Linked DNA regions of Homo sapiens. The protein of the gene in region 7 purifies or fractionates together with the protein of the main gene of each other region. This does not show direct contact. Each region holds a gene or a part of one and is shown on either strand. Other genes may lie near its edges.

Region 1 (4,466 bases), on a different chromosome or scaffold from region 7:
ATTTTTTTTTACTAAATTAAAATCATATTTACAAAAGAATCAGGTAACCAGCACCAAAAAGTACATTATGACTTAAGTTTTCCCCAGATTCGTAACAAAGGTGAATAAAAAGCTAAAATTATCTCTGTACATAGATCCATGGTAATAAGATGACAGAGACAAGGTTCTGGGTCTTTGGGCTGGATCGCACACCAACAACCAGATGTTTAACCCAGGAAGGACAATCTATGCTCCTGACCACCCAGCCTACCTACCTCATACAATTACCATGAGGATCATATGATATGTGATACAGAAGCCAAGAGATGGGGTGTGGTGAAACTGCCGGGGTGCAGGGGGAGCAGGGTTGCAATTTTAAGTAGAGAAGTTTGGAAAAGACACATACAAGCAAAGACATCAAAGTGGTGTTAGATGACATTTATAACCAATATATATTAAAGGCAATAAAATATGTAAATAAAGACAGTAATTCTGGCATCAGCAAAACTGATAAATCCAGAGTACCATACCTCCATGTGGGATCTTGGGGTTCTCAGGGAGTCTTCCTGGATCAGTTATGGAGGCCCTCACTAAGGCAACCAGACAGAATATGGAAATGCCATAGAATACTTTAAAATAAATAAATTAAATAAATTAGTCACTTACCCTTCAAAACATTTTATCAACAATCATATTTAAAGTTTAAAATGTATATTTTAACAAACACCATCAGGAGAAAAAATTTCAAAAGATTAAAAAATAAATAATTGATTTCACTCACCAAATAACACTGTCAGGAGGACTATCTTAAATAGTCCTAATTTTAATCATTACTAATTTTAATTATTATTTTACATGATAGTAACTCAAAGTTCTTATAAATCAGATCCCTTAATAACAGGGACTTCCTATTAATAATGGCATAAATGAATAGGCTCCCGTTTAATTACTGCATGTTCTATATTTGAAAGGATCAAAATACCATTTTAAATTCTACAACTAAACTTTTTCATTAACTAACTGGGTATCTTCAATATTACTCTGAATTAGTGATGTTCAACTGTCCCTTTTGATGGATCTTAAAATGATTAGTTTGATAATTAAGACTTAGAAACTTTTTAATTTTAAAATTAATAACCAGAAAACAAAAATAGTAAGGGAAAACAGATTTGGCCACCATAATTCTACATTTTTAAATTAGTAAGAATAGAGAAATTCTGTTGGGGCGATAAAAAAAAAAAACATACTGTACATGTAAAGGGAATAGTCTGAGTGCTCAATCCAGGACTGACTGCATAGTACCGGTCAGTTTTATCATATATATATAAAATTTCCCATGGTTCGTGTGAGGTCAAAATGAGGTAATGTGCATGAAAACTGTAAATGCCATGTACATGTAAAATATATAATTTCAATTTATTTTAATCATAAGCAAGCCATCACCAATTGACTAATAACTATCCAGAAGTTCCAAGTGTTATCATAATCAACTTCGTAATCAATACTTTTCTTATGAAATTCTCACTTCTCAGTAATGTATACTGTCTCTATTCTTAAAACATCTACATTTGTAATTAGGTACAAAACAGCAATAATAAAAATACAGAGAGACATGCAAGTTATCACTACTGTGTCAGTTTTCTATTTTTAACAAAATGGTCTTCATGCACTTTGCAGTTAAAAATGGAGATATCACTTTTATCTAACTGCAAATCTATAAAGGCCATTATTTCCATAAGTTCATAAATTAGTAAATAACTGAATATTGACAGCACTGCTAAAATACTAAATATATTAAAAGGAAAGTTATCATAGTGGCACTACACCCCAAAAACGTTTACAATGAGAAAAATAATTATACAAGAAAATAAAGATCAAGAAACTTACTTATTATTAATATGCCTGGAATATGTCCTTCTTCATAGTGAGGAAAGAGGACAATTTTGGGAATTAAAACAATATTGTATAACCAAACAAAGACAATCAAACCCATGCAGCACCAACCATGTGGGTCAACAACAAAGTGAATCCGGAGACCCATTTTGCAATCTTATAACTGCCTGCTAACCCACAAGGAAGGATGATCCTAAGGAGAAGGAACAAAGAAAATAATTACTTACATAGAAAAATTTGACTAAAACCTGTATTTCTGGCAACTTTTATAAAATGACATTGAGTTTTCTTTGCATATTTGACATTTTCTTTCTGTAGTTGATATATTTATTGATATTTCTTTGTATATATATTTTTACAATAAATACTTGGGAAAACAAACAGAAGTTTCAGGATATTCAAATTTTATCATAAGCTTCAAATAATTTCAATGTTTCACTATGAACTGCTATCACAGGTATAAACTGGAATCATCTACTGAATTTAAAACACAAGTTTGTCCTTAACCCAGCAACTTCCTGTGTAAACCCAAAAGAAATGAATACACGTGTCCACCAAAAGATTATGTACAAAAATTTTTAGTAGCTTTAATCAGAAGACTGATGGGTCACACAAGTCAAAACAGTGGTTACCTTGTGGTTGCAGGGGTGTATATTAACTGAAAAGGAACATGAGAGAACGAGGGGTTGGGAAACGTTCCATATCTTGACCTGGGTGGTACTTTATGTGTATCTACATATGTAAACATTCACTGAGCTGTATACTTCAGATTTGTGCACTCTAGTTTAATTTTAAACTACAATAAAACATTTTTTAAGTATTTTGAAAAATGACAATAAAAAGTGAAAACTAATTACAAATTGCCAAAAATACTAAAATTCATAGAATGAAGCCCAACAAATCTCATTATGATCAACTGAAGAAGACTCCTGTTTAAATGAGGCTTTTTTTAGTTGAGTGTTAACAATATGCCAACAGATCTCTCAATGAGACACTTAAGGACTTAAAATACTTCTATATAAATATGGTACCAAAAAAGTGACTAAAAATACATCCATACTTTGGTAGATATAACTTCCAAGGATGAAATAATAAATTGCTGTATAAAGTCTAGGGGGTACCTTTTACGTAAAATACAATGGTATAATAATAAACTAGGACAACGGTTCTCTAGCCTGTAAGAAAACCAAAAACACCTGGGGAGCTTTTTAAAAATACATATTCCCAGACCCCATTCTACATCTACTGAATCATAATTCTTCATAAAACTCAAAAAACAATAAAATGTTGTAAAATGCTCTGCAAGAGTCTGAAAACAGCTGACTGGTGTCTAGGAAGCACTGACCCATGAGCTTCACTAACACTTCAATGTTACCACAATGAGTTGAACTCACTTAGTTCAACAAATATTCACTGAGCCTCCACTACACACCTATCACTTGCTAGACACTGCAGATACAATGATGAAGAAGACATGGTCTTTGCTTAAAGGAACAGTCTAATGGGAAAAAGAATCAGAAAAAAGATTTAATATAATATGGTAAGTTCCAGATTTGAAAACAAAATGTTAGTAGGGGCACAGAAGATGGGACCAGTTAAACGAGGAATCAAGTAAGACTTACTGTAAGAAGTGAAACCTGAATTCAGTCTTAGAAGGTTAGTAAAAGTTATCTAAGCAATGAAAAGTGACAAGAATACTGCAAACAGAAGGAATAGGAGGAGCAAGAGTAGAAATTGTGGGAGGTATTACAACCTGCCATCACAAATCATAAAGCTTTCTGTGGAGAGTGAGTGCTAAGAAATATGGGCCTATATCATGAAGGACATAAAGATGCCATGTTAGAATGCTAAGACTGAATTCTTCGGCAATGGAAAGCTATTGAAGCAGGGGATTAACATGACGAAATGTGTACCGTGAATAAATTACTGAAGCTCTGGTGTGAATGATAAAATTAAAGACAGAGGTCCATTAGGCTAAGAGAAGGCAAAAGCCAAAATTAGGTTTGCAGAAAGGAGCAACTGCTAGAATCGAACCAGTGTGTTTTTCTGGTTGATTAGATATTAGGGGTTACAGGGGAAAGTGTCAAGGGTGATTCCCAGATTTTCAGCCTATATCCCAGTCTACTTCATTCTAAGAACAATTCATAATCAATTGAAAAGCCTCAGGGCACCATCCCTTAGAGGCCTTGCCCATGTTCTTCAAAGCTATAAAGCTACTGAAACAAAGAAAAAGAGATTAAGGAATACTTGATTTTAAAGGAATACCCCCAGTTTCTCATCCCTAGTTCCTGCAAATATTGGGGCAGCAGAAAAAAAACAAAAAACAAAACAAAAAAAGAACTCAAATGTAATACCACTTAATAGTTTAAATCCGGTATGTTCTAACTTGTGTATGAATTCTAAAACAGAAATAGTGCCCAGGCCACTAAACTAATAAAAGTTTCATTTATTTATCTTTTAATTTAAAAATCAAAAGACAGATTGGTATCATTAAAATGAAGAAAGTCAGACAGGATAAAGCATGCTATTTAATTTGCTAAGAATCATTTTAATAAAGGAATCTCAAATACAAATGGTAAGCTATCTACACAGTT
Region 2 (4,132 bases), on a different chromosome or scaffold from region 7:
AAACACGGGATGACTATAAGTGACAAAGAGATTAATTTAAATCTGCATGACAAATCTTACTCAAGCTTACCAGACTTTTCCTGGTCACCTTCCCATAACTTGTTTCCCCTGCCCAGAAGCCCCTAATCCCCTTTCCTATGTTTTAGCCCAAGTTGGTATATTATTAAATTAAACTGGGCCTGAGGCTGCCTCCATACCTTGAGTCCCCACATGACGAACTGCAGCCTAGCTTGGTACATAAATGAACTGAAAGCCTAATTTAGGAGTATATTTTTGTAATACATAGCTGAGCGTCAATCAATCACAGCAGCTGAGTTTCAGCCAGTCACTGGCTGCCAACTGATCAGCCCACCTCCAAATAAGGCAAAGGCTCAGCTGTAACCAATCAAGCAGCTTCCCTACCTCACTTCCATTTTCTGTCTATGAATACGGCCTGCTCATTATTGTAGAATAGAGTTCTCCGAACCTTTTCTAGTTCCAGGGCAGCCCAATTTTGTGAACCTTTCTTTGCTTAAGTAAACTGTTAGATTTAATTTGTTTAAAGCTCTTCTTTTAACATTTTACACCCAAGTTCTAACCACCCCTTTGAGCTGCTCATTCCAGTTACTCCAAAGCATGCATGAGATACACATGTTAACAGACTAATGTTTGTTTTTCTCTTGTTAATCTGTGTTTTGTTACAGAGCCCCAGCTGGGGACCTAGAAGAAAATTTGTTTTTCTTCTCTTATAGCAGCAACTCTGATCTTTTCCCTTCTAAACTATAACAAGCAATTAAAACAGCCTCTCAAACATTGGTAGAATGATTTCATCTCTTTGGGTTAGATATACTAGCCTTCTTCTGCCAGACCCAACAGATTTCTCCAGTGTTACTCTGGGCAGAGAGCAACCTTCACTTCCTTAGGAACAAGGTTGCCAGAGTTGGACAATGAAAATGCCAAGTACCCCGATAAATTTGAATTTTAGATAACCGACAACTTTTTTTATTGCAAGCAGATCTAATTAAATAACAAAGTCCAAGAAACACCTGCCTTTAAGGCACTCTCCCTAACAAACTGAGTTATATTCCTTGTAAAATATAATAGAGAAATAAAAATCTATGGGGAAAGGGTCACTCTAAAGATACTTTTTATTTAAATATTTTATGATGATACATATACAAATATAATCTTCCAAAAAACAAATGTAAAACTAATACAAATCACTTTTTCAGGAACAAAGAAAATCATTTAGAAAATGTGATTATGCTAAAAGAGGCAGGTTAGGTTTCCAAGGCTGCTCAAGGTGGAAGCTTAAGACCAACTTTTGTTTGAGTACACAAGTGATATTTACATTTTCATATACTAGTGATATACCTGTTGCATACTTGGCAAAATAAAACTGATAGTAAGTCTATAATAATAAAAGAAACAACAATTACTAAGTAAACAATTCTAGATGATGGAAGAGTAACCTCCATTTAAGCTACAGACTTAGATGTCTAAAAATATGTGTCCTGATCTGTACAGTTAGTGGGAGCACACTATATAAATCCTTTGCATGACACCATTCAACAATATTTTTTAAAATCTACAAAATTTTAAAGTTTCACTTCCCTAGCAAAATATCTTCAGTCAAGAAATTAGTCTTTGAAAATTATGAAAATTGTTGTGGGAAATATTTATACAAATTATTACTGATAATGCACATATATTTTGAAACATTGTTTCTAGAAGCAATAAAATATAACCTATTTAGGAGATAACCCAAATGATTTGTAAAAAAATTAACTTGTAGAAAAGGGAAGGATGTTGTGTAAAATCAAGTCAATTATTTGAGGTTTTTATAATATTGAGTACTTATGTACTAAGTCACACCCAGCCAGTCAATAACTGAGAAATCAAAATAAAATAATAATTTCAAAGAATTACATAAATACAGGGCCTTTTGAGATTTTTGGCAATTGTAAACAAAAACGAATGGTTTTTACAATTCAGTGTAATTCTACGAATATTTATTTGGCACCCATGTTAGGCACTGAGGCTACACAGCAGTGAAATAGGCCTAGTTGTTCTCAACTAGAGAACATAGTTGGTTAATGTAGCTGCACTGAATTGTAGCTGTTTAGAAGATAATATACCCTGAGGCTTTTTAAAGTATACTATTACTATAAGAAGTAAAATTATTTTATACTTATAAATTTTGTTTTGGATTATTCAACTGAATTTGGAGTGTTCAGAATTTTCATGGCGGTTGAGACAAGGAAGAGGTATAATGCTATTTTTTTTTCCTTTTCTTTTTTTTTTTGAGACGGAATCTCACTCTGTTGCCCAGACTGGAGTGCAATGGTGCGATCTCGGCTCACTGCAACCTCCGCCTCCCGGGTTCAAGTGATTCTCCTGCCTCAGCCTCCCAAGTAGCTGGGATTACAGGCGCCCACCATCACGCCCAGCTAATTTTTGTATTTTTAGTAGAGACGGGGTTTCACCAGGTTGGCCTGGCTGATCTCAAACTCCTGACCACAGTTGATCCACCCGCCTCGGCCTCCCAAAGTGCTGGGATTACAGGCGTTAGCCACCACCCCTGGCCAGTATAATGCTATTTTTAAGACTATACAGTATGTACGTGCACACACACACACTGTCATGTGCACAGAAACATACAATGTGTATTCTTATCATCAATGGTCCAATTTAATGAATCACACAGATTGAAAGGGTTCAAGTCTTAAAGAAGTTATGAGCACCATAGCTGGTGCTCAGACTGTGCATGTATCTTTGGATCAATGAGTTGTTGAAAGTCTGCTGGGTGCAGTAAAGTACAGAATACAGAACATCAATGTTTAATGTTAATACGGTAGGCAAAGAGACCCAGTCAGTTTCCTGGGTTGCTTTACTGGACGGCTGATGAACTAGGTACTCTGTTCACTTGGTAAATTCTCAGAAGCCAGATTGACTCTCTATGTATCTTGTTTTATCAGGATTGTTTGCATAGCTTGCTAAAAGGCACCTAAGCAGCAGCATCATCTCTATGTCTTCAGTAAATTGTGGAACATTTCTAAAATACTCCTGGAAGCAGAGACAGTGTGGTCCTTTGCATATCAGTGACTGAGAAAAATTTTAAGATCAATGTGTATGTGTCTCTGTGTGTCTGTAAGGCTCATGAAAAATCAGGTACATTGGAAACATGAAATTAGTCACTGCTAATTAAACTCTGGGTCAGTTTGTGGCTGACTGCTGTTTAGGAGTAAGAATGCTGTACAGTGCTATGCTTGGTAACTCTGGTGGAAGATGTGGTTATGGTAGAATTAGAATGACCAGATTCCTCTAAACCAAAATCTGGCAGAGGGCCAGGGACTCCAGCTCCAGACACCGTGGTGTTCCTAGCCGTCATAGAATTTTCAGTGGGAATCTGGTAACTGGATTGCAGAGTGGAAGCAGGTGCTAGAACTCTTTCTGTCACTGTCACATTCTGTCCTACTGCTATATTAGGCATGGCCAGAGTAGGCTGCACACCTGAGCTGGGGGCAAGGAAGCTCTCTCTTTCCCTCACCATGACGTAAGGTACATCTTGAAGATGCTGAGTGCCTTCCAGAGGATTCGATCCACCCCCATGAGGCTGTATTACTCTTTCAGTGACCACAACTGTACCTTCATTAGCATAAGGCTGATCTACCAAGGTAGAAGCTGGAGCATACACCCTCTCTGTCACAATAAGGCTCTGTGGCTGGCTAGGACCCAGGATCACAGTGGTTGGTGGCATAGTGGACCCTGTGACATAGGAAGTTTCTGTTGCTATCACATTTCTAGAAGCCATTGGGTCAGGAAGAGGTGTAGCTACCTTTTGCGCCTGCCTAGAAGACACAGATCTTTCAGTGACTATTTCCTGAGTTACTTTCTCTGCATTGGCTTCTTGCAAAGATTTTGGAACTGGGAAGCTACTGCCAGAGGAGTAGGTATTCTCTGAATTAACCATAGTTTGCTCACAGAGTGAATGTGAAGCTGTGTTCATACTTGTTTCTGTGGCAGGTTTTTGTCTCTGCTCAATTTCCTTATTTATATCTATTTTTTGACCCAGGCAAACTTCAGCTAGTGTCTTGAATTTAAGTCCCAAATCATCTAAGAAGCGGTCATCTAGCTCTCCTTCAATAAAACT
Region 3 (4,466 bases), on a different chromosome or scaffold from region 7:
ATTATGAAAGGATTCAAAAGGAAAACAATATTGCTTAGAAGTTAGGAGCAGGGGGCCGGGTGCGGTGGCTCACACTTGTAATCCCAGCACTTTGGGAGGCTGAGGTGGGTGGATCACGAGGTCAGGAGATTCAGACCATCCTGGCTAACATGGTGAAACCCCGTCTCCACTAAAATTACAAAAAATTAGCCGGGCGTGGTGGCGGGCACCTGTAGTCCCAGCTACTCGCCAGGCTGAGGCAGGAGAATGGCGTGAACCCGGGAGGCGGAGCTTGCAGTGAGCCAAGATTGCACCACTGCACTCCAGCCTGAGCGACAGAGCGAGACGCCGTCTCAAAAAATAAGAAGAAGAAGAAGTTAGGAGCAGGGTTCTAAAACCAAACTGCAAGGTTCTAATCCCAGCTGTACCATTACTATTTTTGTTACCTTTGGAAAGTTACTTAATTGCTTGGAGTCTCATTGTCCTCATCTGTAAAATGGGGATACTCATTATTTAAGTTCAAAGAGTTGTTTTAGAGGTAATGGAGTTAATACACATAAAGCATTTTAGCATATGTTTACTATTTATAAAGAGTTGTTTTAGAGGTATTGGAGTTAATACACATAAAGCATTTTAGCAAATGTTTACTATTATTATAATGAAGAAAAGAACCAGATAGTAAATGGTTATCTCTGAGTGATGAGATTGCCAATTATTTTTCTTTTTTATATTTTGTGTATGTGTATTTCCTAACTGTGAACATGGTTGTAGAATAAGACACTTTTATAAAATCCTTTAACTGGAATTTTCAAGTATTTATATTGGCTTTTTTTTTTAATATTAAATGCTTTACCTTAAAACATAAACAATAAATTTGGGTATTTGATATCTACAATTTGCATATTTCTCACTTGTGTTAATCTTTTCCTTACAGACATGGCCCATGAACATGGACATGAGCATGGACATCATAAAATGGAACTTCCAGATTATAGACAATGGAAGATAGAAGGGACACCATTAGAAACTATCCAGAAGAAGCTGGCTGCAAAAGGGCTAAGGGATCCATGGGGCCGGTAAGATGAATTAAGTAATTTAGATAGAATGTATCCTAGAGAATCAAGTGTCTATGTTGCTTTTCAATGTATTCTCCTTAGAGAATCATGAAAAATGGCTTTTTACTTTAAAGGGTTTTTTTTGGTTTTTGTTTTGTTTTTGAGACGGTGTCTTGCTGTGTTGCCAGGCTGGAGTGCAGTGGCGCGATCTCAGCTCACTGCAGCCTCCGCCACCCGGGTTCAAGTGATTCTCTTGCCTCAGCCTCCCAAGCAGCTGGGATTACAGGCACGCGCCACCAAGCCCAGCTACTTTTTGTGTTTTTAGTAGAGACGGGGTTTCACCATGTTGGCCAAGATAGTCTCGATCTCCTGACCTCGTGATCCACCTGCCTCAGCCTCCCGAAGTGCTGGGATTACAGGCATGAGCCACCACGCCTGGCTACTTTAAAAGTTTTTGGTTTGTTTTGAGACAGGGTCTCACTCTGTCACCCAGACTGGAGTGCAGTGGTGCGCTCACAGCAACCTCCATCTCCCAGGCTTAAGCAATCCTCCCACTCCAGCCTCCCTAGTAGCTGAGACTACAGGCATGGGCCACCATGCCCAGCTAATTTTTATATTGTTAGTAGAGACAGGGTTTTGCCATGTTGCCCGGGCTAGTCTCAAATTCCTGAGGTGAAGTGATCTGCCCACCTTGGCCTCCCAAAGTGTTAAAATTACAGGCATGAGCCGCTACACCTAGCCACATTAAAATTTTAAAATCGACTTTATTGAGCTATCGTTTATATATAGTAAAATTCACCTGTTTTGAGTGTAAGTCCTTTATCAGATAAAAGTTTTGTGGTGCTTGCTTCAGAAACATATATACTAAAATTGTAATACAGAGAAGTTAGTATGGCCCTGTGCAAGGATTTAAAACAATTTTTTTTAAGGTTTGCAAATGTTTTTTCTCACAGTGTGGCTTATCTTTTTATTTTCTGAATAATGTCTTTCAGAGAGTTTTAAATTTTGATGAATTCACAATTTAGCAATTTTTAAATTTTACAATGTATCCTTTTTGCACCCTAAGATTATCTTCTATGCTTTCTTTTAGAAGCTTTTATAGTTCTTCTTACATTCTGTGATCTGTTTTGAGTTCATTTTTGTGTCATATGAAGTAAGGATGAAGATTAGTATTTTTACATATGTGCATCCAGTTGCTCCAGCACCATTTATTAAAAAATTATTGTACCTCCGTTGAATTACCTTAATAATGTTGTCAAAAATCCATTGAGTGATTTTTGACACTCAATGTGGGTGGTGGCTCGCACCTATAATTCCAGCACATTGGGAAGCCAAGGCAGGCGGATCGCTTGAGCCCAGGATTTTGAAACCAGCCTAGGCAGTACAGGGAGACTTTGTCTCTACAAAAAAATTTTAAGAATTGCCAGATGTGATGACACACACATGTAGTCCCAGCTACTCAGGAGGCTGAGGTGGGCAGATCACTTGAGCCCAGGATGTCCAGGCGGCAGTGAGCCAAGATCTGGCCACTGCACTCCAACCTGGGCAACAGAGAGAGACCTTGCCTCAAGAAAAAAAAATCAATTGACTGTATCTATGGGATCTATGTCTGGACTGTACTCTGTTACCCTCATTAATATGTCCACCCTTATGCCAATACCACAGTGTCTTTAAATTACATAGCATAAGATCTCCAACTTTTTTTTTTTTTTTTTTTTTTTGAGACAGAGTCTCACTCTGTCACCCAGGCTAGGGTGTGGTGGCTCAATCTGGCTCGCTGCCAGCTCCACCTCCCGGGTTCACGCCATTCTCCTGCCTCAGCCTCCTAAATAGCTGGGACTACAGGTGCCTGCCACCATGCCCTGCTAATTTTTTGTATTTTTAGTAGAGACGGGGTTTCACCGTGTTAGCCAGGATGGTCTGGATCTCCCGACCTCATGATCCACCCGCCTCAGCCTCCCAAAGTGCTGGGATTACAGGCATGAGCCACCGTGCCCAGCCAAGATCTCCAACCTGTAAAAAATTGTTTTAGCTATTCTAGGTCCTTTGCTTTTACATATAAACTTTGGAATGAACCTGACAATTTCTATTAAAATCCCTGCTTGGATTTTAATTGGGATCACATTGAATCTGTTTCACATAGATTCACAATGGGAATCTATTTCACATCCACATTGAATCAGATTCCCATCAATTTAGGGGCCAGGCATGGTGGCTCACACCTGTAATTCCAGCACTTTGGGAGGCCGAGGCGGGTGGATCACTTAAGGTCAGGTGTTCGAGACCAGCCTGGGCAACATGGGAAACCCTGTCTCTACTAAAAATACAAAAATTAGCCAGGTGTGGTAGTGGGTACCTGTAATCCCAGCTACTCAGGAGGCTGAGACAGGAGAATCACTTGAACCCGCGAGGCTGAGGTTGCAATGAACCAAGATCGTGCCACTGCACTCCAGCCTGGGCAACAGAGTAAGCTTCCATCTTAAAGAAAACAAAAAATTTAGGGATAAGTGATGTCTTAACAATATTAAGTCTTCTAGTCAATGGGCAATTTAGGTCTTGTTCATTTTATCAGCAGTATTTTATTGCTTTACGTACAGGTCTTGCACATATTTTATTAAATTTATACTGAATTAATTATTTATTTTATTTTATTTTATTTTTCTGGGAGACAGAGTCTCACTGTGTCACCCAGGCTGGAGTGCAGTGGCACAATCTTGGCTTACTGCAACCTCTGCCTCCTGGGTTTAAGCAATTCTCCTGCCTCAGCCTCCTGAGTAGCTGGGATTACAGACGTGCACCACCACGCCCAGCTAATTTTTTTTTTTTTTTTTTGAAATGGAGTCTCGCTCTGTCACACAGGCTGGAGTGCAGTGGCACGATCTCCGCTCACTGCAAGCTCCGCCTCCTGGGTTCACACCATTCTCCTGCCTCAGCCTCCCGAGTAGCTGGGACTACAGGCGCCCACCACTATGCCCGGCTAATTTTTTGTATTTTTTAGTAGAGATGGGGTTTCACTGTGTTAGCCAGAATGGTCTCGATATCCTGACCTCATGATCCACCCACCTCAGCTTCCCAAAGCGCTGGGATTACAGGCATGAGCCACCGCGCCAGGCCTAATTTTTGTATTTTTTTGGTAGAGATGGGGTTTCACCATGTTGGCCAGGCTGGTCTTGAACTCATGACCTCAAGTGATCCGCTCGCCTCAGCCCCCCAAAGTGCTAGGATTACAGGTTTGAGCCATCAGGCCTGGCGTTGTTTGTTTGTTTGTTTGTTTGTTTGTTTTGGGAGATGGAGTCTCCGTCGCCCAGGATGGAGTGCAATGATGCCGTTTTGGCTCATTGCAGCCTCTACCTCGTGGGCTGAAATCATCCTCCCACCTCAGCCTCCCGAGTAGCTGGGACTACAGGTGCATGCCGCCATGCCCAGCTAATT
Region 4 (3,296 bases), on a different chromosome or scaffold from region 7:
CAAGGACAGGCCAGGCATAGCCGGGCTGGGGACGGGACCTGCCCAGCAGCACCCTTGGCTCTCTAGGTAGGTCCTACTGTTACTATCCCCAAGGACGCTGGGGCACAGACAGGTGGAGCGACGTACTGAGGTTGCCCACTGCAGGGGCGACTGTCTCCAACACTACCTCAGGCGACTAGAAACCCCCCCCCCCCACCACCACCATCAACACCAGCTGCTGAGGACTGGAGGCTACTGGGTGGCCAGGCAGAGGCTTGGACCTCCTGGAACCGCCATGGTGGCAGTGGGACCCACAGAAGGGGCCAGGTGTATGAGGCTGGAGACTCCACAGCACTTGGTCAGATGGGGACAGGAGGAGAGGGGCTCGCTCTGCCTTGGGTCTAGGGGGCGGCTGGAGGAGAGGAGACAGGCTGGGGAGTCAGCGCAGTGTTGGGGCTCACACAAGGGGGAGCCCAGGGGAGTCAGGAGCACCACAAACAAGGCTCCAGGAGGACAGATGGTGGGAGCACGGCCAGCCTGGGTGGGGACATAAAGGGGTGGCAGGGGGAGGTGGCCAGGGAAGAATCTACATGGCAAGGACTTCCCGGCCCCAGGCCTGGGCTACGCCTCCATGGTGATCGTCTTCTACTGCAACACCTACTACATCATGGTGCTGGCCTGGGGCTTCTATTACCTGGTCAAGTCCTTTACCACCACGCTGCCCTGGGCCACATGTGGCCACACCTGGAACACTCCCGACTGCGTGGAGATCTTCCGCCATGAAGACTGTGCCAATGCCAGCCTGGCCAACCTCACCTGTGACCAGCTTGCTGACCGCCGGTCCCCTGTCATCGAGTTCTGGGAGTGAGTCCGGCACCTCTGGGCCAAGCCCATCCCATCCCCCAGGTCTCCCTCATGTTGCCCGGCTCCAGGGGAGTGGCCCTGAGGGGGCACCAGGGTGTTGCCTGGCAGTCCATCCTGGACCCTGCCTGCCCTTGCCTGTCCTCGGAGAGTCCTGGGGCCAGCCTCGCTCCTGGGTTCGGCAGCCGATCACTGTCCTGGTCACTCCCCCCTGATGGGGGAGCTGGGGCTGCATGTGAGGTGGGATGGGAGTGGCCTCCCAATGGCCAGGGGATCGTGGGCTCCAGGCCCAGCCCAATTGGACAAGAGGGACCCGCTGAACCCTGGGCTGTGGGAGAGAAGGGAGCCACAACTCCTGGGGGTGGACCCTGTGGCTCCATCCTCTGCTGGCACAGGCCTCATGGGACCTCCCTCCCTCCCCTAGGAACAAAGTCTTGAGGCTGTCTGGGGGACTGGAGGTGCCAGGGGCCCTCAACTGGGAGGTGACCCTTTGTCTGCTGGCCTGCTGGGTGCTGGTCTACTTCTGTGTCTGGAAGGGGGTCAAATCCACGGGAAAGGTACCACTAGAGGCATGCAGCGGGGAGGGTGGCTCAGCCCTGGGAGCCGGATGTCTGTGCCAGGCACACCTGTGGCAACGGGAGGTGACCAGACAGAGTCTAGCCCTAAGGAAGGGGGAGGTACTGAAAGCCAAGCAATGCTCCCCACCCTGCAAATCCAGGGCCCAGCAGCCTTTGCTCCTGGGGATAGAGGCCCTGGCAGGCACTGTCCCTTCCCTGTGCCCATCACCCCCACTGGTGCCCTCCTGCCAGTCTCTGACTCTTGTGACAGTCTGGTGGACCTGGTCTGGCCATCTGTTACCTATCTTGCCTTGGGGACCCAGAGCAGAGTCTGGCCACATCCCTTGGGGGCTCCTGGTCAGGCTGGGGAGTCACCTGAACAAAGAAGACAGTGTCTAGAGCTGTGGGACATGGCCAGCTCCCTGGGGGACAAGGTCCCCAGAGCAGCATGTGGGAAGAGGGGGCAGACAGTGTGGCAGCTGCATCTCGCCTGCCTCTGCCTGGCCCAGTTCCACTCTCCACCTGCTCAACCCCCACCTCTCTCCAGAAGAGGAGGGGGACCCGACCCGGATCCAATATCCCGCTCCCTGCCTGGGCCTCCCACACCTGCACTGCCCACACACTCATACAGCTCTCACTCCCCACGTGCTCCACGCCTCCTGTCCCCACTGAGGAGAGCTCCCAGAGGCTCGCCTGCTCCCCACCGACACGCGTCCCTGCAGACAAACGAGGCGCCCAGGGAGCTTCCCCACTGCACTTGGCCAGGGCTGCCGGGGCGCAGCCTTGCCCCTAGCTTCCTCTGGCGGGAGCCATGGCTCGGAGGACAATGGGGACCTCTGAACATACCTGCCCGCAAGGGGGACCGGAGGCGCTGGGAGTGGGGGTGTGAGGGAGGTGGTGCCACAGCCTCCGCTGAGCAGCCTGGCCCCCCAGATCGTGTACTTCACTGCTACATTCCCCTACGTGGTCCTGGTCGTGCTGCTGGTGCGTGGAGTGCTGCTGCCTGGCGCCCTGGATGGCATCATTTACTATCTCAAGCCTGACTGGTCAAAGCTGGGGTCCCCTCAGGTGAGGTGGAGGTGGAGAGGCTGCAGCAGGGCGCTGCGGGGGAGCCCTGCAGGCCCCTCATGCCTGCGCTCTCCGGCCCTTCTCTAGGTGTGGATAGATGCGGGGACCCAGATTTTCTTTTCTTACGCCATTGGCCTGGGGGCCCTCACAGCCCTGGGCAGCTACAACCGCTTCAACAACAACTGCTACAAGTAAGCACCGCCGCCCTGCCACCCGTGCCCTGTCCTGCCCTGCCCCGCCCTGCCCAGCAGCCTAACCCATCCACTCTGGCCCCTCCACCCCTCAGGGACGCCATCATCCTGGCTCTCATCAACAGTGGGACCAGCTTCTTTGCTGGCTTCGTGGTCTTCTCCATCCTGGGCTTCATGGCTGCAGAGCAGGGCGTGCACATCTCCAAGGTGGCAGAGTCAGGTAGGGCCCTACCCCCAGCCCCGCCTCCAGAGCAGCGAGTGCTACCCAGATGCATGATGTACAGGAACATGCAATAGAAATGCTGAAAAGTGACGAGGATTCAAACGGAACTTGTCAGATTGTGGGCCTGTGGGGGCAGGTCCTGGGATTTGTCAATGTTGACAGAGAAAGGACCTCCCAGCCCCTGCCGCACGACCCAGGGTTGACAGCGCCTCTGAGGCAGGCGTGGGCATGGGCGCGAGTGTTGCAGGCAGGGCTCAGGGTGCGCACAGGGCAGGACATCGGCTACAAGGTCTAGAGCCTGCACCTTTCCCACAGGGCCGGGCCTGGCCTTCATCGCCTACCCGCGGGCTGTCACGCTGATGCCAGTGGCCCCACTCTGGGCTGCCCTGTTCTTCTTCATGCTGTTGCTGCTTGGTC
Region 5 (4,466 bases), on a different chromosome or scaffold from region 7:
AAAAAAATGAAGTGTTACTGTTCACTTTAAAGACAGTCCAAAAAACATGTGTAACTAACTGAGGACAAGAGATGGTCATTACACTCTCAGTACCCTTCACTGCAATAAGCAGGTAGCTGCATAAGGCAAATACTTTGGTTTACCAATTCTGGTATATGGGTTATTAACATTGTCATATTACTTACATCATCTTGCAGGCCATACAGCATAAACTAGAGACCTGCAACCATGTTCTTCTAGGCCTTCTGTGTTTTAAAAAATGTTTTAATTAGTTACCAATCTTTCAAAAGTGAGAGATTTTACATTACAAATCTAGACTTGTAGCTTTCCTTTAAAATCAGAAAACAATCAGATGATATGGGCAGTATTTTCATATGGCAAAGATCAGCTGGGGCTGAAGGTGGTTGTCCATTAGAAGGAGCATGCACCCTCCAGGTGAACAGTCCAACTGGCACTGAGGCCACACCTACATTTCCACTGATCATCACACCTGAACTTTGTCTTTTGTTAAAGAGGAACACGAAGCATTTCTTATGCCTAGTCAAATTTGCTGATTGTTATTTGTCCTGCCTGTATGGGCTGCTACAGTCACATATATCACATGTTCTAAAGTAGTAGAAACCTAAAAGTTAACCAATTTCCCCCAAGTGACCTAATAATAGGTTTAAGAATAGGGTCAAAATAGTGAACTTACTCATAAATAGCTTTAGCATCCTCAGCACTTTTGTCCTTAAAATCAAGAAGCTCCTGAAGACTCTGGATATACCTAAAATGCAGATCAATAGGATAAGTTTGTTCTTTTATATTCTGAAAGTTCAATATCATGAAAATTAGCTCAAAAGCTATTTTTAGCATTTTATAATTTTTAATTTAGAATACTGCTATAAATTATGGTTGAAGTATAATTTTTACACCCATGCACATTCAAGCAAAGTGCTGGGAATGAATGGTAGAAGGTGCACATTTTCTCCTAAAAGCAAAGGTCAAATTTAAGAATTTTAAGATTTTCCGAGTTCTACATTCTAAAATGGCTTTTAATTTTTTTTTAATTTACCACTGTACATTACAGTATATATACTGATTATGCTGAGATCTGTCACCAGTAACTATGTGATCTTGGGCAAATGACTTAATTTGTCTTATTATCAGTAAAAGGAGGACAGCCTCTCTTGCTCTAAGACTGTATCTTAAATATCTGTGCTTTAAAACCTTAATTTTACATATTTATGTCCAACTAACAAGTATTTATTGAAAGCCTATAATCTACATGGTTCTTTTAAACTGAACAAAAAACACAAAAGTCATAAAAATGTACATTTTAAATTTATCTAACAATTCGAAGTATCAAAGCATCTGTTAAGGAATGAGCAAAATAGAGAAGGCCAAATGATTTTCTGATGGTCTTGCAGGCAAGTACAATGGCACTGCGGGGCCAGAGCTAAAAATAACTTGCTACCACTGAATTACTTTCTTCGACAGTGTAAGGGATCTGCTCCACTTGGCTGTAAGCACTTTATCTGCAACTGTCCTAACTTAGCAGGCATCTAGGAGCAATGGAAGTGCTTTAAAAACCTGTAATTCCATCTGTTGGTTTGGAAAGCTGTTTCTGACAAGCAATATGTCTTACTGCATTCCAAAGTTAAGGGATTCTGATAGCAGCTGCTGCTTTGCTTTAACCCTTAATTTCCTCTTAATTGGCAAGAACAACTACGCTCTCCATCCAAGAGATATTTGAGTACCTACAACAGGCACCGATCAGACCTCATGACTGATAAGCTTCAAAAAGCAGCATATTCTACTTCTAATGAAGAATTTTTTAAAAACAGGAAAAATCTTCCATGGAATATTATATTTTCTCCATTATATCCCATCATAATTACTAAACAAATGCTTCCCATTTAATCCACACTTATAACTATTCCATACTTGGACTAGATAGCATCTGATTATCATATATATAGCAGTCATATTTTGCTTTTTTAAATTGCGATTAGATCAACTTCTCCCATACGCTATAATGCTTACAAAAAGAAAACTTGAATCTCCATGAATCATAACTGGGAAATGCCCTGCAGCTAAACCTTTTCCATTTAAGACTTAACTCTGGGCAACTCATTTGTTTGAAGCATACAGTGCTTAAAAGAACAACACTTTTAAATCAGTAACATTAATGAAGGCTGTATATAGGTGGCTCCATGAGTGTATACCCTTAACATCTCTACTTATCTTTGGGAAGAGATCACACTTTTTCTACACAATTCCAAAAACTTCTAATTGTTTTAAAACAGAAAAATAAACATTTTAACTTTTGTAATTTATAAAAAGATACCCTTCAATAAACACAGTTTATTAAAAATACATATATCCTTTCATATATTTCATCATTCTGACTATAGCACGGTATAGCAGAGATGGACAAATGGGGGTTTGAATCCCAACTCCACTATCAATGGTACTGTCTTACGCAAAAGATTTAACCTTTATGTGCCTCAGCATCCTCATCTGTACAGAGTTAACCTGCCAGGTGCGGTGGCTCATGTCTGTAATACCAACACTTTGTGAAGCCAAGGTGAGAGGACTGCTTGAGCCCAGGAGTTCACAACCTGCCTGGGCAAAAAAGTGAGACCCCCATCTCTACAAAAAAATAAAAGAATTGGTCAGGTATGGTGGCGCATGGCTGTGGTCCCAGCTGCTCGGGAGGCAGCTGCCTTAGCAGGAGAATCTCTTGACCCCAGGAGGTCAAGACTGCAGTGAGCCATGATCACACTACTGCACTCTAGCCTGGGTGATGGAGACCCTGTCTCTAAAAAGAAAATAAATTAATTTAAAAAATAATAAACAGGCTAGACACAATGGCTCATGCCCATAATCCCTGCACTTTGAGAGGCCCAGGTGGGCAAATACCTTGACCTCCGGAGTTTGAGGCCAGCGTAGGCAACATGGAAAAACCCCATCTCTGCTAAAAAATACAAAAATTAGCTGGGTGTGGCATGCACTTGTGGTCCCAGCTACTCAGGAGGCCGAGGTGGGAGGATCACCTGAGCCAGGGAGGTGGAGGTTGCAGTGAGCTGAGCTGTGATCACCACTGCACTCCAACCTGGGTGACAGAGTAAGAACCTGTCTCAAAAAAATAAGTAGGCCAGGAGTGGTGGCTCATGCCTGTAATCCCAGCACTTTGGGAAGCCAAGGTGGGAGGATCACCTGAGGTCAGGAGCTTGAGACCAGCCTGGCCAACATGGTGAAACCTCTATTTCTACTAAAAATACAAAAATTAGCCAGGCATGGTGGCAGGTGCCTGTAATCCCAGCTACTCTGGAGGCTGAGGCAGGAGAATCACTTGAACCCAGGAGGCAGAGGTTGCAGTGAGCCAAGATCATGCCATTGCACTCCAGCCTGGGCAACAGAGCAAGATTCCATTTCAAAAACAAAAAGTAAATAAAAATAATAACAATGAATAAAATGGAGAGAATCATACCCACTGTGCAAGGTTGTTGAAGGGATTAAAGGCAATATACATAAATACCCAGTCATCAACAAATTGCAGACATTTTTTCTTATAATATCCTTGAAGATATACTAACATAAATCCTAAATTTAGCATCTGTATTTCAGTGCAGTTTTGACTGGCTTTCTCAAAATCAAGAAGTTGTGGAGTCCACGATTCAGGGCACAAGCCCAAATACATTGCCCCCACCTGCCCCCAGCCAAAAAAAGAATACTGCTACTACCTTAAGACTCTGGTCGGGCACGGTGGCTCACGTCTGTAATCCCAGCACTTTGGGAGGCCAAGGTGGGTGGATCACGAGTTCAGGAGACCGAGATCATCCTGGCCAACATGGTGAAACCCTGTCTCTACTAAAAATACAAAAATTAGCTGGGCGTGGTGGCACGTGCCTGTAATCCCAGTTACTCGGGAGGCTGAGGCAGGAGAATCGCCTGAACCCGGGAGGCGGAGCTTGCAGTGAGGCAAGATCGCGCCACTGCACTCCAGCCTGGGCGACAGAGCAAGACTCCGTCTCAAACAAAACAAAACAAAACAAAAAAGATTCCACCAAAGAGTAAAAAAAAGCATTTGCTGTAACCTTGAATAAAGTCCACAACTCCATCAAATTGCAAACACAAGATGAGAATCTTACCAGCTTTGTACCAATTGAACGGATGGTGTCCTGAGAAGATTATCTGGAAGGAGACTTATTTCTTTCATTATATTTGCCAGTCTGACAGGCAACTCTTGCCGCAGAAACATAAATGAGGTCTTTTCACAAGCATTCACTGATCCTGAAACCAAACATGATGGGTAAAGCAGTAAGTAAAAGCCATAAGGAAACAGAAGGCAAGAGGCTGAGAGAAATAGAGAGGAAGTTATCCGGCAAGGCCAGAGGGATAGAATCACCACGATGGGGCAGGGAATAGGAGGCAAAGATACACCTGCCTGTGGGAGGCGAGGGATGAGATAACCCAGTCTC
Region 6 (4,466 bases), on a different chromosome or scaffold from region 7:
TCCACTTATATATCCCTAGAACATGTATCACAGTACCCATGCAGTAGAAAACCAAACGCTTGATAAAAGATGAGAGCTGTCATATAAAAACAGCTTTTGTATCCCTTCCAGAAAGTATTTGTCAAGCCAACTGAGAAAAAAAACTCAGTTCCATTGCATTTTCCCTCCACTCTTTCTTTTATGCACCTTTTAGGTAAATAAATTTCCTTTGCTGCGGATTCAGTACTTTTCATATACCCTATATAACTGAACGGAAATTCAAGATAAAAGAACATAGACACAGTTTCACATCATAATTCTTAGGTGGCTAGTCTGCTTTCTTAAGCTATCAAGTGGTTTTCTTAACTAAACATACAAGTCTACTGATTTTGTTACTCTTACCTTCTAATTTAGCTAGAAGACTTGATTCCGTTTTATTCTTCAGGGTTATTGAATCAGTAATAATAAGTTCAGAACTCTTTTCATCTGACACCAGAGGTTCCTTGAAATGACTATTTTGAACAGACTACATGAAAAAGAAAATCAAATAAAGTCCCATAAATAGTAGTACTACTAATCTGTCTTACTGTTCAATATACTAAAGTCTTATCTATACATGGATTGCTCATAAAATTTTCTATTATAATTATATGTAGACTCACAAACCCCCAGCAAAGGTTAACTGCCTGAATTATTAATTAGAGAAATGGGAAGGGTCATAACCATAAATCTGGCCAATTTGCTTTCAGTGGATGTATTAATCAATTGCTAAAATATATTTCACTTAAAGATGGAAAGGGTTAGAAAGTTTGAATTCAACATAGAGTATGCCTCATGACAAGAAAAAAGATTTAAGTATTTTGTTACTGTGATGGCTATTTTATCACCAAAAATAAGTCAAAACTAGTAACTGCATAACTTAAGAGAGTAGTTACTCTAAATCCAGAGAACAATCTTTTTGACACAATTATGCACTGTTCTCTAGGACAGCCAGGATTAGGAAAAATTAATACTTAAAGCATAGGTCATGAAAGAGGGAGGCATTACAAAGAACATAAAATTGAAAAGACCCACATCATGATGCCAGGGGTTTAACTCAATTATAATAATAGTATAACCACTAAAAATCACAGTGTACCAGGAACTAAAATTATTTCCTTTAAGTCCACACAAAGTTGCTCTGCCATGTCAGGAGGTCAGGATTATTTATGTCCTCACCTCTGCCCTAACTCAATTTACTCTCTCATTTTTTTTTAAGATGTCTTACCAAAATCATATGATTAAACATAACAAAAAACAAAACTTGGGGGCAACAGTTCCCCCAGTCACGTATTCCCAAACCCAGGCCAACTATCTGCTTAAACACGTGCATAATAAATATTACTTCATGATTCTCTTAAAAGATTGTTGATCCTTGCTCTACCACCTTAATCTTGGAGAAACATAGTCTAGGACTTCTGCACCAACTTCCCACTCGTAGTCCCACAGCTCTTGGGGTATGTGGAACACTGTTGGAGATACATGAACTATTTATAAACCCTTTCCCCAGAAAAAGCTCCATGAATACTGATCCTCCCAGATCAGGAACCCTTGCTTTATATAATGATATAGAATTAAAATACCTTTAAATTTCTTAATTCACAGGAATCATTTCCACTTGGTTTAGATCCAGGCACAACCAAATCTCGGCATTCTGATCTAGAGGTTTGTCTTTTACCCGTGAAACAAAATAATTTTAACATTAAATTTGAAAAAAAAAATTTTCAATGTATTTTTTCATCTCAAGTTGGATTTTTAATAATATACATACTTTTTATTGAAAAAAATCTCTTAAAAAGACATTTTTTAGAGTGACATAATTCCAATACAAAAGTGACTTAGCTAACAAAATTACGTGCTGGGCAATGACAAAAGTGACACAGGTGATCGCCTACTTCTTCATTATCTAATCAGTAACAATTGGAGTTAGGGTTAGACTGTGGGAAAGGCAAAGTATACAGATGAAACTACATTTCCAATTACAAATAGCTAAAGGATAAGAACCAGGGTATAGCACTTCTGTGGACCTCCACAGTACCTAGCATTGTCTATCGATAACAGGAACCAAGAAAATGGCTGCAGTTTTTCTGTTTTTGTTTTTAATTTTTTGGAGCGGAAGAAAATCTCCTTTATTCTTGAGCTAGGTATTTGAAATAGAGATGAACAAGATGAAATCATAGTGATAAGACTTTAAAGCTTAACCTTGACAAACAAAATGTTCTTTTAATGTCAATATTTAGTCAAGTCTAAATATAATAGAAATGTAATTATAAAAGATAGTAATGAAAAACAATCGTATTTCTAAAGTTTATTTGCAAAATGATTCTCTGGACTGTAAGGAGCCTTTTCCAATATAAATATTACAAATGTTGGTCAGAATTAAGAATAGGCCAAAATAACTCTCCTTTAGCTGAGCTACAGGCTACATTCCCATTTCTTAACAGGGAATAAACAAGCAAATTGAGGGAAGGAGAACACACTGGATGTGATGAACAGTAATTCATCTGTACCTAACCTGTCCCACTTCTTGAAGCACTAGACTCAAGCAAAAGAATAATCATCTATCCCACTGACAGCGATTCTCCCCTTGAACTATCTGGAGCAAATATTTGTTCCCAGACCTCCTTCTACCCGTTATGGAGACTCTCAAACAAAACAGGAAGAGATTCTTAGCAGACAGCCTACCCGTAAGTGACAAATCCTCAAATATCAGTCTTTTAAGCTTAATGTTGACTTAATATTTTTTCCTTTTAAAGCTCCTTTAATGAATATTTTTAATGAGTGAAAAAGCAAAACAAAGTTATTTTCTCCACTCATTCCTTTGTTCCTGACAACATTTAGAGATTATCTTCTAAAACTGAATAAAAATTTAATCATAATTACTATTACTCAGTAAAAGACTTTAAGACCATTCTGCCATTAATCTTCCCATACGGACAACAAATTTTAAAAATTAAAACTCAACATACCTTTTCATAAAACAAGGTACAACTGAATCATCTGTCTTCACATCACAATCTGGGCTATTTAGAAGGTTAACTGGGACTCTTCCAAATGGGCATGACTAAAAATATTTTGAAAGATTAAATAACCAACTAGGAAATAAAGACTATCACCACCTTAATCAAGCAGATTGAAAGTAACTTACCTGTTTAGTTTTGTTAGTTTGTCTCAATGAATTCCGGTAACCTATTTCTGCATCTTGTGGTGGCATGTTCTCTCTAAACAGAAAGAAAATACCCCCAATTTTTCAAAGAACAATATTAATATGTATTTCTACTCTACTGCTAAACATTATCACACACATGAAAACATATATGCAGATACATGTAATTACATTAAAAAACACAGATGTACTTACATAGAAGATGAACATTTAAAAACTGTTTCCGTTTCCTTACCCATATAAAAACCTGGCTTTAGTAGTCTGTCCTCTGGAATCACAACTGTTGTTCCTATTCTGTAAATGCCCAAGTGAACCGGAAAATGATTCTTGGGCAGTTAATACCGTAGATGCTGTAAAAATTTTGAAACTATGATTAAATTTATAAGAAATAAGACAAGTACAAAAAAGTGATCTTACAAATAAGAATATTTTAAAAGTCAATTCATAGGAAATACTTGTCCCCAAGTAAGATATGCAGACATGAAGATGATACCAAGATAATTATCTAACTACTTCTTCAAATTCTCTTAAATTATATAACTATTTCCCCAGGGTAAAAGCACATTCTCTATTTCCAAAAGCAAAAAAAAAAAAATTCTCTTGCTTAGAGTTGTTTTTCATGTGTTAACGAAAGTTTAGTTAGCAAAAAAGACAAATTTGCATGGGGTTGTAGAGACTTTTTTACTTCTCAGTCTTACCTCCTTTACAATTTAATCTTAGATTTTAACCATTCTACATAAATAATATTTTTCTATAAATTATTATCCCGAATCTTTATTTGAAGTACTACCTACCACAGAAAGTATTAGTATACCTTAATAGTTACCTGATAAATTCTTCTTTTCCTCCTCTGAAAGCAGCTGCTTTTTTTGGAGGTTTAAATTCCGCAGGGCAATTTCCAGCATTTCTAGTGGTACTGCTCCACGTTCTACAGCTTTTTGAAGAAGTTGTTTACTTTTTTTGACATTACCTAACAAAGCAAAAGATAATTGTCATTTTTAGGCAGTAAAATGCCCACCACCCAGACCACCCAGATACGTATTCATCAGGACCTAGAAAAAAAAATCAAAAAGACTTAAGCAAAAATATTTATTCCAAGGCTCATGTATTTTATTTCATAGGCAAGTAAGCAATCTCTCACTTTTTATGCAGATAACCAACTCTCTTCTGATAACAATGCATACCAAATAGTTTCCTTGCAATATGTAGCTGACGTAATTTTGCATTAGTTTATCACCACTGTCCACTTTCAGAAGTAACAGAAGTGTAACAAAGCAGTTAC
Region 7 (4,466 bases):
TGGTCCTTAACACACAAGGTTCCCCCAGGGCCTCTGGAGCACAAGACCTGGCAGAAGTGGTATCCAGCTTAGAGGTGACTGCCTCAGTTTTCCCAGCCCATGGACTGATGGGAAGGTCAAGACCCTAATGATGCTCCATGGGAGAAGAGGACATGCTTGAGGCAAAGGCCAGCCCATGCTTAGCCCCTGGCCACGAGCCAGGATTGCCTCTGCTGCTTGCCCTGTGGCCCTGCAGATGAACTTAGGCCCTCTCCAGAGCAGAGCATTTGTTGCCCTTCCTGCTCCTTTAGCCTCAGGGCAGGAGGCTGCCGGGTTTCCTCACACGCAGGGCCTCTTCTCTCTGAGGTCTTGGCCCTGAGGGCTATATATGAAGGGCCATGCCCATGGAGACTGAGATCTGACCCCTGCAGTAGGTCTCAGGGATGAGGACCCCAGCATCAGACACTCTGGGTTGCTTGGGGCACTTCCTTCCCCAACAGAAGCTTCAGTCCCAACCCAGGTCCCACCAGTCCCTGCTTGCGTTCCTGCTCAACTGCTGCCTGATGGAAAACTTAGCAACGAGCTGTGACTGGCACTCCTCCCGCAGGGGTAAACACAGACTCCTCTAGCCCTGACTGCAGAGACAGATAAAGGCCCTTACCCTGGATATCTACATTCTCTATCCTTAAAGTGAAAAATAACTTGGTTTGAGCTAGAATAACTGGAGCAACAAAATAAAGATGGATAGCATTAGTTTATAACTGATGAAATAAAATAAGTATGTATGAACCTGTACTGATATAAGTTAACAATTGCATACATTAATAAATAGATGTGGAGGGGAAGCTCTTCTTCTCAGAAGAATTCCAATTAATAAATGTTGAAGGAATCAGAAAATGCAAAATCATCACTAGGCAAACTGCAGTAATAATTGTTTCAGTCAAGACCTAGTGATGAATGCTAAAATCAGTGAATAAAAATTTGAGGAGACACAGGATTTTGTATAATCTCGAAGAACCTCCCTTAAGATATTTATTAGTGACAGAGGAAAAAATAGTACCTTTACAGCAGAGAAATTCCACAGACACCAACTTGACAAATGATCAAGGTTAACATCACCAGTAATAAGACACATCAGCATCATGTACCCACTGGTATGATGCCCAGAGAATGCATCACTTCTAAGGTATCATTACCAAAAAGTGCATAACGCAATCTAATTGTGAGAAAAATCATGCCAACCCAAACTGAGGAGCATTCATCAAAATACTCATAAAAATGTCAAGATCATGAAAGATAAGGAAAGACTAAGGAACAATCACAGATTGGAGACTGAGACATGACAACTAAATACAACATGGGATTTTGGATGGGATCCTACGATAGAAAAAGGGCAGTAGTAGAAAAACTGGTGAAATCCAAACAAAGTCTGTAGTTCAGTTATTACTATTGTAACCAATGTTAATTTCCTGGTTTGGATAAATGCATAACGCGTATTTAAATTGTTAACATCAGAGAAAGCTAGATGAAGGGTATATGTGAAATCTCTGTACTATTTTCAAACTTCTCTCTAAATCAAAAGTTATTTCAAAATAAAGTTAAAAAATAATCGCCAGGCGCGGTGGCTCACGCCTGTAATCCCAACACTTTGGGAGGCCGAGGCAGGTGGATCACCTTAGGTCAGGAGTTCGAGACCAGCCTGGCCAACATGGTGAAACCCTGTCTCTACTAAAAATACAAAAAACAAACAAACAAACAAACAAAAAACTAGCCGGGCATGGTAGCAGGCCCCTGTAATCCCAGCTACTCGGGAGGCTGAGGCAGGAGAATCGCTTGAACCAAGGAGGCAGAGGTTGCAGTGAGCCGAGATGGCACCATTGCACTCCTCCACCCTGGGCAACAAGAACGAAGAAAGAAACTCCATCTCAAAAAAATAAAATAAAATAAAATAAAATAAAATAAAATAAAACGAAAAATAATTTGACTCTTAGTAACTGCACAGGTTGAAAAACTTGGACCTCACAATCAACCCCTGAAGAAGGAAACTACCTTATACACATGTACACACACAGACGAATGCACTCACGCAAACCCCAACTCAGACACCTTATTGCTACCTCCTGGCATACTATGAAAGGCATTTCTACAGCACAGCATGCCATCCTTGGTTCCTGGCTAACCCTGTCCTCCTGTGAAGAGGTGTTGGGGGGCAGTTCAGGCAGACTTGTCTGTCCCCAAAGATATGCCCATTGGGAGATCCTGGCACGGCAGTATAAGGCAAAGACACAATCTGAGGACAGTCCCACTACCTGTGTTGTGCCAACTGGGATGCAGAGAACCTTCTCAGGGGCCCTGGGCTTGGCCCTGTACACTGGCACTGGCCAAGTCAGTATGGGTTTGGACTTGTGTTCTATTCTCTGAGGCTTGGAACTGCCACTGTGGGGAGAGGGGCTCAGCCTCCAGCAAGTCCCATCACCTATTACACAGGCCACAACCTGGACTTTAGAACAGCTCCCACCATGCCCACTGTCCCCAGCCAGTGGAGAAGGCAAAGAAGGTGCTGAGCTTCTGCCTTTACCACTCCTCACCACCACCTAGGAAGCCCATTTGCTGGTGCCACACTCTTTGCTGGTGCCACACTCTGTGCTGGCCACCACCGGATGGGGCATGGGGCATTATCTCACTGAGTCCTCCCAACAACTCAGATAAGGTGGCTTCTCTTATTATCCCCATTTTGAAAACTGAGATAAAGTACACATAATATACAGTTTACCATCTTAGCCATTTTTAAGTGTACAGTTCAGAAGCGTTCACACTGTTGTGCAATCAATCTCCAACACTACTTTCATCTTACAAAACTGAAACTCTATACCCATGAAACAACGACTCCCTACTCCTTCCTTCTTCCAGTCCCTGGCAACCACCATTTACTTTCTGCTTCTGTGAGTGTGACTACTCCTGTAGTGAAATCAGAAAATAATTTGTCTTGTGACTGGCTTATTTCACTAAGCGTAGTCTCCTCAAGGTTTATCCACGTTGTAGCATGTCCTTCCTTTTTAAAGCTGAATAATCGTCCATTGTACGCATATACCACATTATGTTTATCCATTTGTCTGTGGAAGGACACTTGGGTTGCTTTCACCTTTTGACTATTGTGAATAATGCTACCATAGACATGGTGTACAAATATCTCTTTGAAACCCTGTTTCAATTATTTTAGACATATATCCAGAATTAGTATTGCTGGATCATATGGTGATTCTATTTTTAATTTTTTTAGGGACCACCACATTATTTTCCATAGTGGCTGCACCATTTTACACTCCCACTAGGAATGAACAAGGGTTTCAATTTCTCTACATCCTCACTAACACTTGTTATTTTCTGTGTTTAAAAACAACAACAACACTTTTTTAGAGGTGGGGTCTTGCCCTGTCACCCAGGCTGGAGTGCAGAGATATGGTCATAGCTCACTGCAACCTCAAACTCTTGGGCTCAAGTGATCCTCCTGCCCCAGCCTCCTGAGAAGCTGGAACTACAGTCACATGCCCTCATGCCTGGCTAATTTTTTATTTATTTTTTGTAGAGATGGGGTCTTACTATGTTGCCCAGTGCTGTCTTGAACTCCTGCCCCCTAGCAATCCTCCTGCCTCGGCCTCCCAAAGTGGATTTCTGGGTGTTTTTTTTTTCTTTTTGTAGTAACTATTTTTAAGGGTACAAAGTGGTACCTCCTTATGATTTTCATTTGCATTTCCCTAGTGATTAGTGATGTTGAGCCTCTTTTCATCGCTTGTACCCCCAATTTATAGACAAGGAAACTGAGGCTTTCATCAGTGATGTAACCTGCCTGGAGTCAGCCAGGTGGTTGGCAGTGGAGTCAAAACTGGCCCTCTACTGAGTCTGACTCCAGAACTCTGTGTGCTGCCGCCCCTCTGGGGGAGAGCCATCCATCCATCCTGCTTACCCTGGTACTTGCTTCCTTCCCTCCTCCTCCCAACCACCAGAGCCCAGTTTTTTGTTGTTGTTGTTGTTTGTTTGTTTGTTTTGAGACACAGTCTGGCTCTGTCACCCAGGCTGGAGTGCTGTGGTGTGATCTCAGCTCACTGCAACCTCCGCCTCCCAGGTTGAAGTGATTCTCCTGCCTTAGCCTCCCGAGTAGCTGGGACTACAGGGGTGCACCACCACTCCCAGCTAATTTTTGTATTTTTAGTAGAGACGGGGTTTCACCATGTTGGCCAGGCTGGTCTCAAACTCCTGACCTCAAGTAATCTGCCCGCCTCAGCCTCTCAAAGTACTGGGATTACAGGCGTGAGCCACTGTGCCCAGCCCCTAGTTGCTTTTTATTTTACTTCCACCACTCAAAAAGGAAGCCAGGAAGGGAAAAGCTGCCAAAAAAAGCAAATCCTGGTGCATGTGTGTGAATGTGTGATGATGTACATCCTTAGAGGTCCCTGTGAACAGCGTACAACATGAGTAGCTATGGACTT

The links.
Region 1: the proteins of SLC22A4 (region 7) and ZDHHC21 purify together in Homo sapiens (affinity purification with mass spectrometry; one large-scale study listed by BioGRID and IntAct). This does not show direct contact.
Region 2: the proteins of SLC22A4 (region 7) and DSG2 purify together in Homo sapiens (affinity purification with mass spectrometry; one large-scale study listed by BioGRID and IntAct). This does not show direct contact.
Region 3: the proteins of SLC22A4 (region 7) and NDUFB3 purify together in Homo sapiens (affinity purification with mass spectrometry; one large-scale study listed by BioGRID and IntAct). This does not show direct contact.
Region 4: the proteins of SLC22A4 (region 7) and SLC6A8 purify together in Homo sapiens (affinity purification with mass spectrometry; one large-scale study listed by BioGRID and IntAct). This does not show direct contact.
Region 5: the proteins of SLC22A4 (region 7) and PDK1 purify together in Homo sapiens (affinity purification with mass spectrometry; one large-scale study listed by BioGRID and IntAct). This does not show direct contact.
Region 6: the proteins of SLC22A4 (region 7) and TTK purify together in Homo sapiens (affinity purification with mass spectrometry; one large-scale study listed by BioGRID and IntAct). This does not show direct contact.

Annotation. Positions count from the first base shown.
Region 1 is NC_000009.12:14,672,321-14,676,786, forward strand, and holds part of ZDHHC21 (palmitoyltransferase ZDHHC21), read right to left. Parts: intron 2,066-4,466; 5' UTR 2,021-2,065; coding exon 1,867-2,020; intron 609-1,866; coding exon 510-608; intron 1-509. UniProt on the Homo sapiens protein: Palmitoyltransferase that catalyzes the addition of palmitate onto various protein substrates. Palmitoylates sex steroid hormone receptors, including ESR1, PGR and AR, thereby regulating their targeting to the plasma membrane.
Region 2 is NC_000018.10:31,545,829-31,549,960, reverse strand, and holds the end of DSG2 (desmoglein-2 preproprotein), read right to left. Parts: coding exon 3,218-4,132; 3' UTR 953-3,217; downstream 1-952.
Region 3 is NC_000002.12:201,077,968-201,082,433, forward strand, and holds part of NDUFB3 (NADH dehydrogenase [ubiquinone] 1 beta subcomplex subunit 3), read left to right. Parts: intron 1-913; 5' UTR 914-915; coding exon 916-1,055; intron 1,056-4,466. UniProt on the Homo sapiens protein: Accessory subunit of the mitochondrial membrane respiratory chain NADH dehydrogenase (Complex I), that is believed not to be involved in catalysis. Complex I functions in the transfer of electrons from NADH to the respiratory chain.
Region 4 is NC_000023.11:153,690,711-153,694,006, forward strand, and holds part of SLC6A8 (sodium- and chloride-dependent creatine transporter 1), read left to right. Parts: intron 1-593; coding exon 594-843; intron 844-1,264; coding exon 1,265-1,397; intron 1,398-2,330; coding exon 2,331-2,465; intron 2,466-2,552; coding exon 2,553-2,656; intron 2,657-2,751; coding exon 2,752-2,876; intron 2,877-3,194; coding exon 3,195-3,296. UniProt on the Homo sapiens protein: Creatine:sodium symporter which mediates the uptake of creatine. Plays an important role in supplying creatine to the brain via the blood-brain barrier.
Region 5 is NC_000002.12:172,558,520-172,562,985, reverse strand, and holds part of PDK1 ([Pyruvate dehydrogenase (acetyl-transferring)] kinase isozyme 1, mitochondrial isoform 2 precursor), read right to left. Parts: exon of another isoform or gene 4,433-4,466; intron 4,279-4,432; coding exon 4,137-4,278; intron 767-4,136; coding exon 695-766; intron 246-694; coding exon of another isoform or gene 186-245; intron 1-185. UniProt on the Homo sapiens protein: Kinase that plays a key role in regulation of glucose and fatty acid metabolism and homeostasis via phosphorylation of the pyruvate dehydrogenase subunits PDHA1 and PDHA2.
Region 6 is NC_000006.12:80,010,502-80,014,967, reverse strand, and holds part of TTK (dual specificity protein kinase TTK), read right to left. Parts: intron 4,155-4,466; coding exon 4,011-4,154; intron 3,535-4,010; coding exon 3,420-3,534; intron 3,240-3,419; coding exon 3,167-3,239; intron 3,083-3,166; coding exon 2,988-3,082; intron 1,690-2,987; coding exon 1,602-1,689; intron 506-1,601; coding exon 382-505; intron 1-381.
Region 7 is NC_000005.10:132,296,877-132,301,342, reverse strand, and holds part of SLC22A4 (solute carrier family 22 member 4), read right to left. Parts: intron 1-4,466.